2 separate regions of the Homo sapiens genome follow, and region 2 is linked to region 1. Evidence: fine-mapped expression QTL. A gene starts in region 1. The other region holds a variant in brackets. All regions are shown on one strand. Distances are between the middles of the regions. Region 1 holds the start of DUSP5 (dual specificity phosphatase 5). Region 2 has its middle 6.2 kb from the start of SMC3.

What was found. PIP is the estimated chance that this variant, and not a neighbour inherited with it, causes the effect. A credible set is the group of variants that fine-mapping cannot tell apart.
Region 2: its variant is the best candidate, but not a certain one, in a credible set for the expression of DUSP5 in whole blood (INTERVAL, PIP 0.71).

The regions. Positions count from the first base shown.
Region 1 is chr10:110,494,740-110,500,113 of GRCh38, reverse strand. DUSP5 (dual specificity phosphatase 5) reads right to left here and starts at 2,207. Exons shown (of 4, transcript NM_004419.4): 1 at 1,614-2,207. The coding sequence starts at 1,992. It overlaps DUSP5-DT (DUSP5 divergent transcript), which reads left to right and starts at 3,632. Exons shown (of 2, transcript NR_187547.1): 1 at 3,632-3,726. RefSeq lists silencers at 1,481-1,750, 1,871-1,930, 2,001-2,140, 2,151-2,680 and an enhancer at 3,162-3,685.
Region 2 is chr10:110,558,768-110,564,141 of GRCh38, reverse strand. No RefSeq gene overlaps it. Among named protein-coding and RNA genes, the nearest start is that of SMC3, 6.2 kb to the left of the region's middle. The variant A/G (reference allele first, on the strand shown) is at 2,160.

The sequences.
Region 1 (5,374 bases):
TGACGACTGTCTCTGGGGAGTGGAACTGGGTTCTAAGATATGCAGAAGACCCGCTTCTCATCACAGGGCCTTCATGCTGTTCAAATTTTTACCTGTGTATATGTTACCTTCTTTTAAAAAACATTTTAACCCAGTTTTCCTGAGATGTGAGTCTATAGAGCTGCCTACTTTGTGGCGACAACTTCTAAACTGTCAGCAGGGCCAGCTTAGAGAAGCATGGGGAGGAGAGGTGGGACCAGGGAGGGTCTCCTGGAACCTCTTTCATACTACTGAGGCAGAAACTTCTCCAAACCACAGGAGATAAAAACCATATTAGGAAGAGAAAGAAATCAGGAGGCACGCTGAAACCTCTGCAGAGCCAGAGGGCCAACCCTCTATCCCCTGGGGGATAGGCTGTTAGAAGAAGGACGATTACCATCTACCTCTGTTAACTCTCCAACAGGAAATCAACAGGGGACCAGTCAGCAGGAGGTGCTAGCAGAGAGGGGAACTGTCTCCAGAATCTTCCTGGCCCGGACTGTGTGAAACTCAAGTTGCATGGCTTTAAAACAGGCTCCTAACTCGGCGCCGGCTCTCTGCACCGAGCTCTGATCCCCAACACTGTTACATCCCAAGGTGTCCGCGCCAGGGCTGGCACGGCCTTGGGGCCCTGCTGGGGCTAAACCCTCATCTCTACATGTGGGTCAGGTCTCCCCGGGTGTCATTTGAGGTTACAAAGGACTCAAACACAAAGCAGGAGCAGTCATAGGAAGTAACCCAGAAAAAACCAATGCTTTGGATTTTGAGAGTCAATCACCCACCCACCACCAGAAGCCAAAGTTATCTTCCCGGCAGGTGAAATGGGCAGGCCTGTGGCGGTAGCTCCGGGAGGTGTCAAATCAAAGGCCGCAGAATCTCCATACCACCCTGCCCCCGCGCACCTCTATTTCGTGGCTGGCTGGCTGTAGGCTCAGCTCAGGATGGGTCCCAGGGATAATCCTGGGGCGGAGGAAGGAGGAGGTGAAAAGGGTGGAAAGGATGTGAGCTCCAAACTGAGCTAGAGAAAAGACCTAGGAGGGGAGAAGAGGCCGGAGGGAAACAATAAAAAGCAATAAAATGAAATGGAAAGGGAAGGGACTCGCCAGGTCAAAAAGGCAAGGGGGTCGGTGAAGACCACAGCTGGCTAGGCGGGAGGAAGGGGGGCACCACGGCGCCACACCAAGGGAGAGTGGATCGCGACCTGCTGATCCCGCCAGATCAGTCTATCAGGAAGGCCCCGAGCCCTGACCCCAGCGACAGCGGCGAAGCTCGCGTCTGGAAAGGGGGCTCGTGCCCGGCACGAGCCGACGGCCCCCAAACTGCTAAACAGCAGCAGCCCCCGCAGCATAACCAACTCCACCCAGACCACCGGGCAGACCCGCTGCCGGGCGCTTTCGAGGAACGCGGGTGGGGAAGAGGGGGAGCTCTGAGTGCTGACATTTGCAGTGCCCTCCCAAGCGCACAACAAGCCACAGGGTGCAGACTCCTGCAGGTGGTGACTCTCCCGGTCCCAGGGTGTAGGAGGGCGCCCCGGCGCAGGGAGGGGACCCGGGGGCGCCGGAGGGGCGAGCGTGGCAGGGACCCCGAGCGCTCACCTTTGAGGAAGTAGACCCGCGGGCCGGCGGGTAGGCAAGCGAGTAGCGAGGTGAGGACGACACGCGCGGCGCTCTCCTCTCGCAGCTTCTGCCAGTGGCGGCTGCCCTGGTCCAGCACCACCACGGCCGCGACGCCGCCGCCGCCCTCCTGCAGGAGCCGCGCGCGCGCCGCCTCGTCGGGCAGCACGTAGCGCGCCGACACCGCGCCGCCCCGGGCCCGCCGCAGCACCACCGAGTTGAGGTTGACGTTGAGCGAGCCGCGCACGTTCGAGGCAGCGAAGGCCAGATAGGGCCGGCAGTCGAGCACCACGCAGCGCGCCGCCGCCTCCTTGCGGAGCATCTTGCGCAGCTGGCGCCCGTCGAGCGACGTGACCTTCATGCCGCCGCCGCCGCCGGCCAGCGGCCCCGCGCCGCGCGCCCCGCGGGTGCCCACGGCCAGGGTGTCCACGGCCAGGGTGTCCGCGGGCGAGGCACGGGAGGGCGACCCGCGGGGCTGCGGCCGCGACGGAGCCCGGCGCCCGAGCGGCGGCGCAACTCCGCGTTCCCGCCCCGCTCGCTCGATAGCCAGCCCGGCCGCTCGCCGCCCTAGAAGCCGGGGATTCCGCCGGCCGCGCAGCGTTTTATGTGAATGAGTGCCGTCCGTGACGCGGCTGCCCATATAAGGCCAAATATGGGTGTTTCCCCGCCCCTCGGGCCGTGGCCACGCCCTGCAGGGGGCGGGGCAGCGGGGGCGAGGGACGCGCGGGGCGGGTGCCGGCGTTAGAGCGAGAGGAAGTGGAAGGCGCCTCTTCGTTCTCTCTTCCGCGCTTCGCTGAGGGACTCACTCGCGCATCACCCGCGGCTGCCGGTCGAGTGTCCCAGGCGCTCCGGGGCCGCGGTGACCCTCGCGGTGCGGACCGAGGAGGAAGCGCCGTGGGGGGCGGGGCGGCGCCGCACGATCCGGCCTTCAGCTTCACGGACGTGGGCTGAGAACCCGCCCGCGCCGCGCTGAGCAGGGCCGAGGGAGCCGGCCAGGGCCCCAGAGGAGTCCGGAACGGATTCCCGTCGCTACCGAGGTCTGCGCGTGTAAGGAGAGGACGTCGGAGATTTGCCTCGAGGGGTGGGGTATAGATGACTGGAGAGGTCAGGCGCGGGTTGGTCATCGCTGAGGCTGGGTGATGGGTGGCCGGATTCGTTATACTGTTTTCTCCACTTTTCTGTATGTTTGATATTTTTCATAATAAAGTTTGTAAAAGTAAAAACGGGGGTTGGGGGTCGGCGGTGAGAATAGCCATTTAATCTTCCTAAATGGATTCTGCCCTCAAAGGATTGACGCTCTTTTCTCTGTCACTCTCCAATAATGATTAGAATAATAAGTTGTATTTTGAGGAGCTGTTTTCTGGTCCCGGGGAGACCCTTGGTGAACTCAGCAGTACCATCAGCATGTATCCCACGATGGAGCTCAGTTCAGCCAACTGTTGTCCAGGTGGCTTCTGGATTTGGGGGATTATCTATGGATCAAGTTTAATCTCAGGCTGTCTGCCCCCACCGGTCCCCAGGGGCTTCAGGCCTCCCACCCCTATTCCTGGGGAAGCAGACACAATTCACCCATTCAGCAAGCATTTATTGAGGGTCAGCCGTGTGCCAGGGCTTTGCTAGCTGCGGGGACACATGGATGGAAACAGGTTTCTGCCCCCAAGCTCACTGCCAACCATTTTATTGTTAGCCTGGCTGGGACTGCTTGATGGAAAACAGTCTGCCCGCACTAGACAAGGGCTTGTTGACAACTGACATAAGGGAATGAGGTTTTCAGAAGGAAGCAGAGATCAAATTTTGAAATCAGATGCAATCAAATCAGACACCAGGACAGCCAGCATTGCCTCTGGGTCACAGATGCATCCACCCAAAGGCGCTGTCCTCGCCTTGCCAGTGGGGTCTTGGTGAAGACGTGATGCGGGGGCCTTCTTTCTTTTTGTGGTTATCTGTGCCAGCCTTCCCTGCAGGCTGCTCTTCCTCTAGCACGTTCTGTTTCTGTTACCGGCTCTTTCCACCCCCGGCATCTCCGCCTAGAGCCACACACATACGCGGAGCACCCACGTGGGCCAGGCTTTGTTTTGGGGCTGGCGGCACCAACGTGAGTAAGACTTATACTCAGCCCCAGCTGCCCCCAGCCCAGAGGGAAGGGGAAGGCCTGTAGTCCGTGGGGAAGAGCGCCCAGTAGGGGTGTGGCAGGGTGGGGCGTGGGCTGGAGAAGGCCTCCCGAGGAGAGGAGAGCTGAGGCCAACTCCGAGGAATGAATTGTAAGCCAGGCTGCGAAGCAGGAGGGGAGATTCCAGGCAGAGGAAACTGCTTGGGGTAAAGAAAACAAAAAACGCAACCCCCCCAGCATGGTGCGTACTGGAGGTATGTGGGAGACTAAGGCCCTTCTGGTATTTATTAGCAGATTAAGCAGGGTCAGGCAACAGAGGGCCTTGTGCTGTTTTGAGTCATTTGGGTCTTAGTCTTTGGCCGGGCAGTCCCCAACGAGGGATCTTACTCAGTGACAAGATCCGGATAGCATTTGGGAACATCGCTGAGGCGGCTCTGTGCGGGATCGGTGCTTTATTTGAGAGTGGTGGTGGGGTCCGGAGTCTGGGGGATGGATGGGAGGATTTCATGGGTAATCTAGACATGAGCTGATATGGACTTGCCAGAACTTGGCAGTGACAGCAGCTATGGGGAGGCCATAGGAATGGGAGCACATTGAGGAAGTGAGATGCTGGGAGGGGTGAGATGGGGAGAGAGAACTGGAGAGGGACACCAAAGATTTTTTTGTTTCCGGATTTTTTTTTTTTAGATAGGTTCTCGGGCCGGGCGCGGTGGCTCACGCCTGTAATCCTAGCACTTTGGGAGGCGGAGGCAGGCGGATCACCTGAGGTCGGGAGTTCGAGACCAGCCTGACCAACATGGAGAAACCCCGTCTCTACTAACAATACAAAAAAATTAGCCGAGCATGGTGGCGCATGCCTATAATCTCAGCTACTTGGGAGGCTGAGGCAGGAGAATCGCTTGAACCTGGGAGGCGGAGGTTGCAGTGAGCCGAGATCGCGCCATTGCACTCCAGCCTGGGCAACAAAAGCGAAACTCGGTCTCAAAAAAAAAAAGCTTGTTCTCACTATGTCGGCCAGGGTGGGCTCAAACTCCTGGCCTCAAGTAATCCTCCCACCTCAGCCTCCTAAAGTGCTGGGATTGAGCCACCACACCCGGTTAGCATTTTTCTTTTCTTTTTCTTTTTTTAGGACAGAGTCTCGCTCTGTCGCCCAGGCGGGAGTGCAGTGGCGTGATCTCGGCTCCCAGGTTCAAGCAATTCTTCTGCCTCAACCTCCTGAGTAGCTGGGATTGCAGGCACACACCACTACGCCCAGCTAATTTTTGTATTTTTAGTAGAGACGGGGTTTCACCATGTTGATCAGGCTGGTCTCGAACTCCTGACCTTGTGCTCCGCCCACCTTGGCCTCCCAAAGTGCTGGGATTACAGGTATGACCCATGAGCCACTACCCCTGGCCAACACCATAGTTTTTAACCTTTAGATAGGGACTCTACAGGAGCAGGTCTGGGGTGAGGGTAGCAGGAAAAGGAGGAGTGGGTGAAGTTTATTCATATTAATAAGCTAGAGTTGGTCACACCAAGGAAGGTGCCCAGAAAGCAGAAGGGTGGCATGGCACCCGGTGTAGGAGGGTCATCTGTCAGCTGGATTGCTTCCTCACATCCCATATCCAACAGATTACTAAGTCCTGGGACC
Region 2 (5,374 bases), 64 kb before region 1:
GTAGCTCCTCACCCAGCTTCAAAGTGCTATCATGTGTATGGTCTGTCTTAGATTTTTCTCACTGATGCTGTGAGGAGCAAGGGTACTTATTTTGCATTGGGTTGGAAACCCAAGGGTCTTATGCTGACTCCATTTGACAAATTCCATGAGTTGGGACATGTCATTTTACCATGTGACTTTCTGTAGATAAAATGGGAATATTCTCTGCCTTTCCAGGCAGCAAAGATGCAGATAGACATTTGCCCCAACAGTCAGTGGTCAGACTTTGGGAGAGCCGGGTCACATCCTGGCTCTATCACTTGCTGATGTATGACCTGGGGAAGATTAACCTCCTGAAGCCTGTTTCCTCATCTATAAGTAAAGATTTTAATGATATCTATGGAAATTTCCTTGCAGGTAAATTAGGATGATTTATTTAAAATAACTGGCACAAGACATAGTGTTAGCTATTTTTGTTATTAGTTCATAGCCAAACTTGTAGTCAGCAAATCCCTGGGAAAAGACAGCAAAGAGCTAAACTGAAAGATCAAAATGCCAGGAGAAAACTGACCAAACACTCTGGGACCACCTCACCCCCCATTATTCATTCATTCATTGAACAGATATTTACTGATTACCTCTAGCATGAATGTGTCCTAATAGCGTTGAGGAGAAAGAAACTTTTCCTCTGCCCTTTTATGTTTATGGGTGAGGTGTGGAGTGGGGGGAATCCATGAACATAAGAGGACAGGAGCTTAAGGCTTGGCGGCGATCGCCTGTAGTCCCAGCTACTCCGGAGGCTGAGGTGGGAGGACGGCTTGAACCTAGGCGTTCAAGGCTGCAGTGAATCATGACTGTGCCACTGCACTCCAGCCTGGATGACACACTAGCAAAAGAAAAAGCAGATTTTAATCACATACGTACATGTGGGAGTTCACAAAGAAATGTGACTCAAAAGGGCAGTTACAATTTGGGGCTTATATAACCCAAATGGAGTTTGAGACCAGCCTAGCCAACATGGCAAAACCCCATCTCTGCTAAAAATACAAAAATTACCCAGGCATGGTGGCCTGCAACTGTAATCCCAGCTACTAGGGAGACTGAGGCAGGAGAATTGCTTGAATCTAGGAGGCGGAGGTTGCAGTGAGTTAAGATCACACCACTGCACTTCAGCCTGGGTGACAGAGTGAGACTCCATCTCAAAAAAGAGAAAAAAATCCATTTTGACTGTGTGCTCATTGGTCAGGGAAATTGCCGCAGGATGGGTTTATGGACCTAGTGCAACGAATGTGAAACAGACTTGAGCCAGGACTTCATGTATCACCTGGCCTTTGTACACCTCCACTGGATCAGGGGAGCCATAAACATGTTTGAGCTCAGTGTCAGCTCAGATCCTATGTCCAACAGCACTCAAAAGATCTGGGTGTTCCCCTTTTCCTAGGGTTCAGTTACTCTGTTAAGTTTTAGGGTCAGATTGAAAGAAATGATACTGAATATACCCAAGGAGAAAATACACCTTCCTTGGGACTCAGCTTCCCCTTCAGTTGATGGGCTGTGGTGTGAGATCTGCCTCCCGTACATAAACTGGATGAGGGGTTGAGACTTTCCATTGCAGGGACTGACATCAGCTTGTGCTCGCTCAAGCCTAATCTAATTTGGTATGTAAGTGAAGATGTACACACCGTCACTGGCTGCCAACTTATCTTACTCCTAGAACAACATGGTCTATGAACCATAGCCACAAACCCCTATGGGTTATAGACTTAAACACGTCCTAAGACAAAATTATAATGAATTTAGTTTAAAGATCTTAATTGGCTTTACTTGTGATTCTAGAATCAAGCAACACCTCATTCTATGAAAAAGAATGCACATTCTGGTGAGTTGAGCAGAAGATCATGGCTTTCTAGATAGAAAAGGGCTGAGGAAAGCAGACAGAAAACAAAACACAGCTGTTTCAAAGTTGCTCTCCTTGTAAAGGTTAAAGCAGAGGAAGCTTCCTCATCATGCTGGCTAAAACAGGCCTATTTGGGAATTTGGCTATTTTCTCTCTCTCTTGATTTCTTGAAAGTTCAGATAAACAACTTAGTTTTGGCATGGTGTTGTGGAACTTCAATATGAGTAAATCCATTTTGGTTTGGTCTGTTGGGTCTAGTGCAGGAGCTCCATGAAAACCAATG[A/G]CTTTCTATAAATTTTATTTAGCAAACCTAGGAGCTAAAACTACAAGACCCCCAGATGGAAACATAGGAGTAAATCGTTGTGACCTTGTGTTGGCAGTGGTTTCTGTAATGCATTGCCAAAGCAAAGTAACACACACAAAGATTAATTGTACTTCCTCAAAACTGTTGTTCACTAACAGAAGTGAAAAGATATAGACTGGGAGAAAATATTTGCAAATTGTATACCTGACAATTTACGTGTGTGTGTGTGTGTGTGTGTGTGTGTGTGTGTGTGTGTGTATATATATATCCAAAATATATAAAGAACTCTCACAACTCAACAATAAAAGACAAACAACCCACTTTAAAAATGGGCAAAAGATTTGAATACACATTTCTCCAAAGAAGATAAACAAATGGCCAATAAACGTGTGAAAAGATGCTCGACATCATTAGTCATCAGAGGAATGTCAATCAAAACCACAGTCAGATACCACTTCATACCCACTAGGATGGCTAAAATAAAAAGGCAGACAATAACAGGTGTTGGCTGGGATATGGAGAAATTGAAAGCCTCGTATGTTGCTGGTGGGATTGTAAGATGATGCAGCCACTTTGGAAAACATTTAGGCACTTTCCAGAATAGGAAAATCCACAGAGACAGAAAACAGTTCAGTGGCTGCCTGGGGCTGGGGATTGGAAGGGAAGGTTTGAAAATGGAGTACAGGTTTGTTTTTTAGGGGAGGAAAGGGAGTGTTGAAAATATCCTAAAATTATATTGTAATGATGGTTGCATGACTTCTTGAATATAGTGAAAATAACAACTCCATATTTTAAATGGGTAAATTTTATTGTATGTGAAATATATCTTAATAAAGCTGGAAAAACCTAGGAAAATATTTCAACAGTGAATCTTTGAACCATACCGATACTTAGACCATGTACAGATGATAATGTGTAGATTATCTAAGTCATTCTTGAACTATTTCATAAAATATAACAGTGCTGTATATAATTGAAATACATCATAATTTCAAATGTGCTATTGAAATCTCAGGTTTAGATCGTCTTTACACAAAGCTTCAGCTATTTAGATTAATGCAGAAATCCAAATTCTGGCATAGATTCAAATATGCCAGGTTCCAGATTCCCAATTTTTCACTCAGTAGTAACTGTATCACTAGAAAGTTAAACACAAAACTACATTATTTAACAGTAACGTAAGCTGATACATTTTCTGGTTTAAATTATCTTTTATAATTTAAAAGATATTTAATACAAAATCCCTAAATCTAGTATAAGTATTTTTGGGAGAAAGCAATGAAATGCAAAAAACAAGTTACTAGGAAAAGGGAGGTTTGGCCAGGCATAGTGGCTCATGCCTGTAATCCCAGCACTTTGGGAGGCCAAGGTGGGTGGATCACGAGGTCAAGAGATCGAGACCATCCTGGCCAACATGGTGAATACCCATCTCTACTAAAAATATAAAAATTAGCTGGGCATGCTGGTGCACACCTGTAGTCCCAGCTACTCAGGAGGCTGAGGCAGGAGAATCGCTTGAGCCCGGGAGGCAGAGGTTGCAGTGAGCCGAGATCGTGCCACTGCACTCCAGCCTAGGCAACAAGAGCAAGACTCCATCTCAAAAAAGAAAAAAAAAAAAAAAAAGAGACGTGAACTACAGACACATGCCGTGACGTGGCTGAATCTCCAAAATATTATATTGAGTGTGGCCGGGGGCGGTAACTCATGCCTGTAATCCGAACACTTAGGGATGGAGAGGTGTAAGGAACGCTTGAGCCCAGAAGTTTGACACCAGCCTGGGCAACATTGCAAGACCCCATTCTCCACAAAAAGGAAAAAATATATGTATTCTACTGAGTGAAAACAGCTTTCCCCTGATGAATACACACTGTGTAATTCTATGTATATGAAGTTCTTGAACAGGTGAAAAGCATCTATGGTGGAAAAAAATCAACTCTGTCTGACAATGAGGGCATATAGGTTAAAAAAAATCAGAAAAGTGATAGCTTCAGGGAGAGTTGGAGAGAACCAGGAAGGAACATAGGGAATTTTCTGAGAGCTGATGATAATGTTCTGTATCTTTATAGAGATTTGGATTCCACGATTTATGCATTTCTCAAAACTCAGTTAAGAATTTTGGAGGAGCTTCTGAAACCTTTTAGGGGATGGGCAGTTACTCTGTGATTCTCCCTGAGCATGTGCATGTTAAATGAATTTGTATGCCTTTTCTCTTATTAATCTGCCTCGTGTCAGTGATTTTCCAACCTCCAGGGGGGCCAGAGCCTTGGCCCCTATACCTCTCATTTCTGGACATCCAGTAACTTGGATGCTTGCAATGAAATATGTTTTTGGCAACCTTTATTTTAATATCCAGCATAACTGAAGTAGAAATTATTCCATTTCCAACCTCCCACAGACTGTTACATGAGACTCACCTAACCCTGGATCTAAAATTCTTGCAGTTCTTCTGAATGGTACACAGAAATACTAGAATGTTTATAAAGGAAAAGACATTGATGAGGGAAAAAACACCTTGAGTTATGGGGAAAAGAAAAGAGCACAAAACCTGGAGAGTCAAGAAGCTGGAGTTCTCAACTTTCCTGAGCCTGGGTTATATCAGCTCTAAAATGGGGGAAAAAAAATCTGCCTCACATGTTTTCTGTGGGTTGAAATGAGATGAGGAAGGTAGAAGACCCTAGAAACAATGACTGGCCCCATCGTAGACTCTTGGTCAGCGTGGTTGAGTCACAGTCCTGGTGGGGTGAAGTGGGGTCAGGTAGGAAAGTGACTTGGAAGGTGTCTGCAGACTGAGGTGGATTTGGGTTCACGAAGAGGAAGGATGAAGGTATTTCAGCAGAGGAGAACCACTCACCTGAAGGCACTGAAGTGAGTAGGAGCCGGTGGTGTGTGTTAAAAATCCTATCTAAGGCCAGGTGCTGTGGCTCATGCCTGTAATCCCAGCACTTTGGGAGGCCGAGGCAGGCGGATCAGGAGGTCAGGAGTTCAAGTAGAAACCCTGTCTCTACTAAAAATACAAAAATTAGGCAGGCGTGGTGGTGTGCACCTGTAATCCCAGCTACTCAGGAGGCTGAATCAGGAAAATCACTTGAACCAGGGAGGCAGATGTTGCAGTGAGCTAAGATCACATCGCTGCACTCCAGCCTCAGCGACAGACACTCCATCTACAAAAAAAAAAAAAAAAAAAATCCTATCTA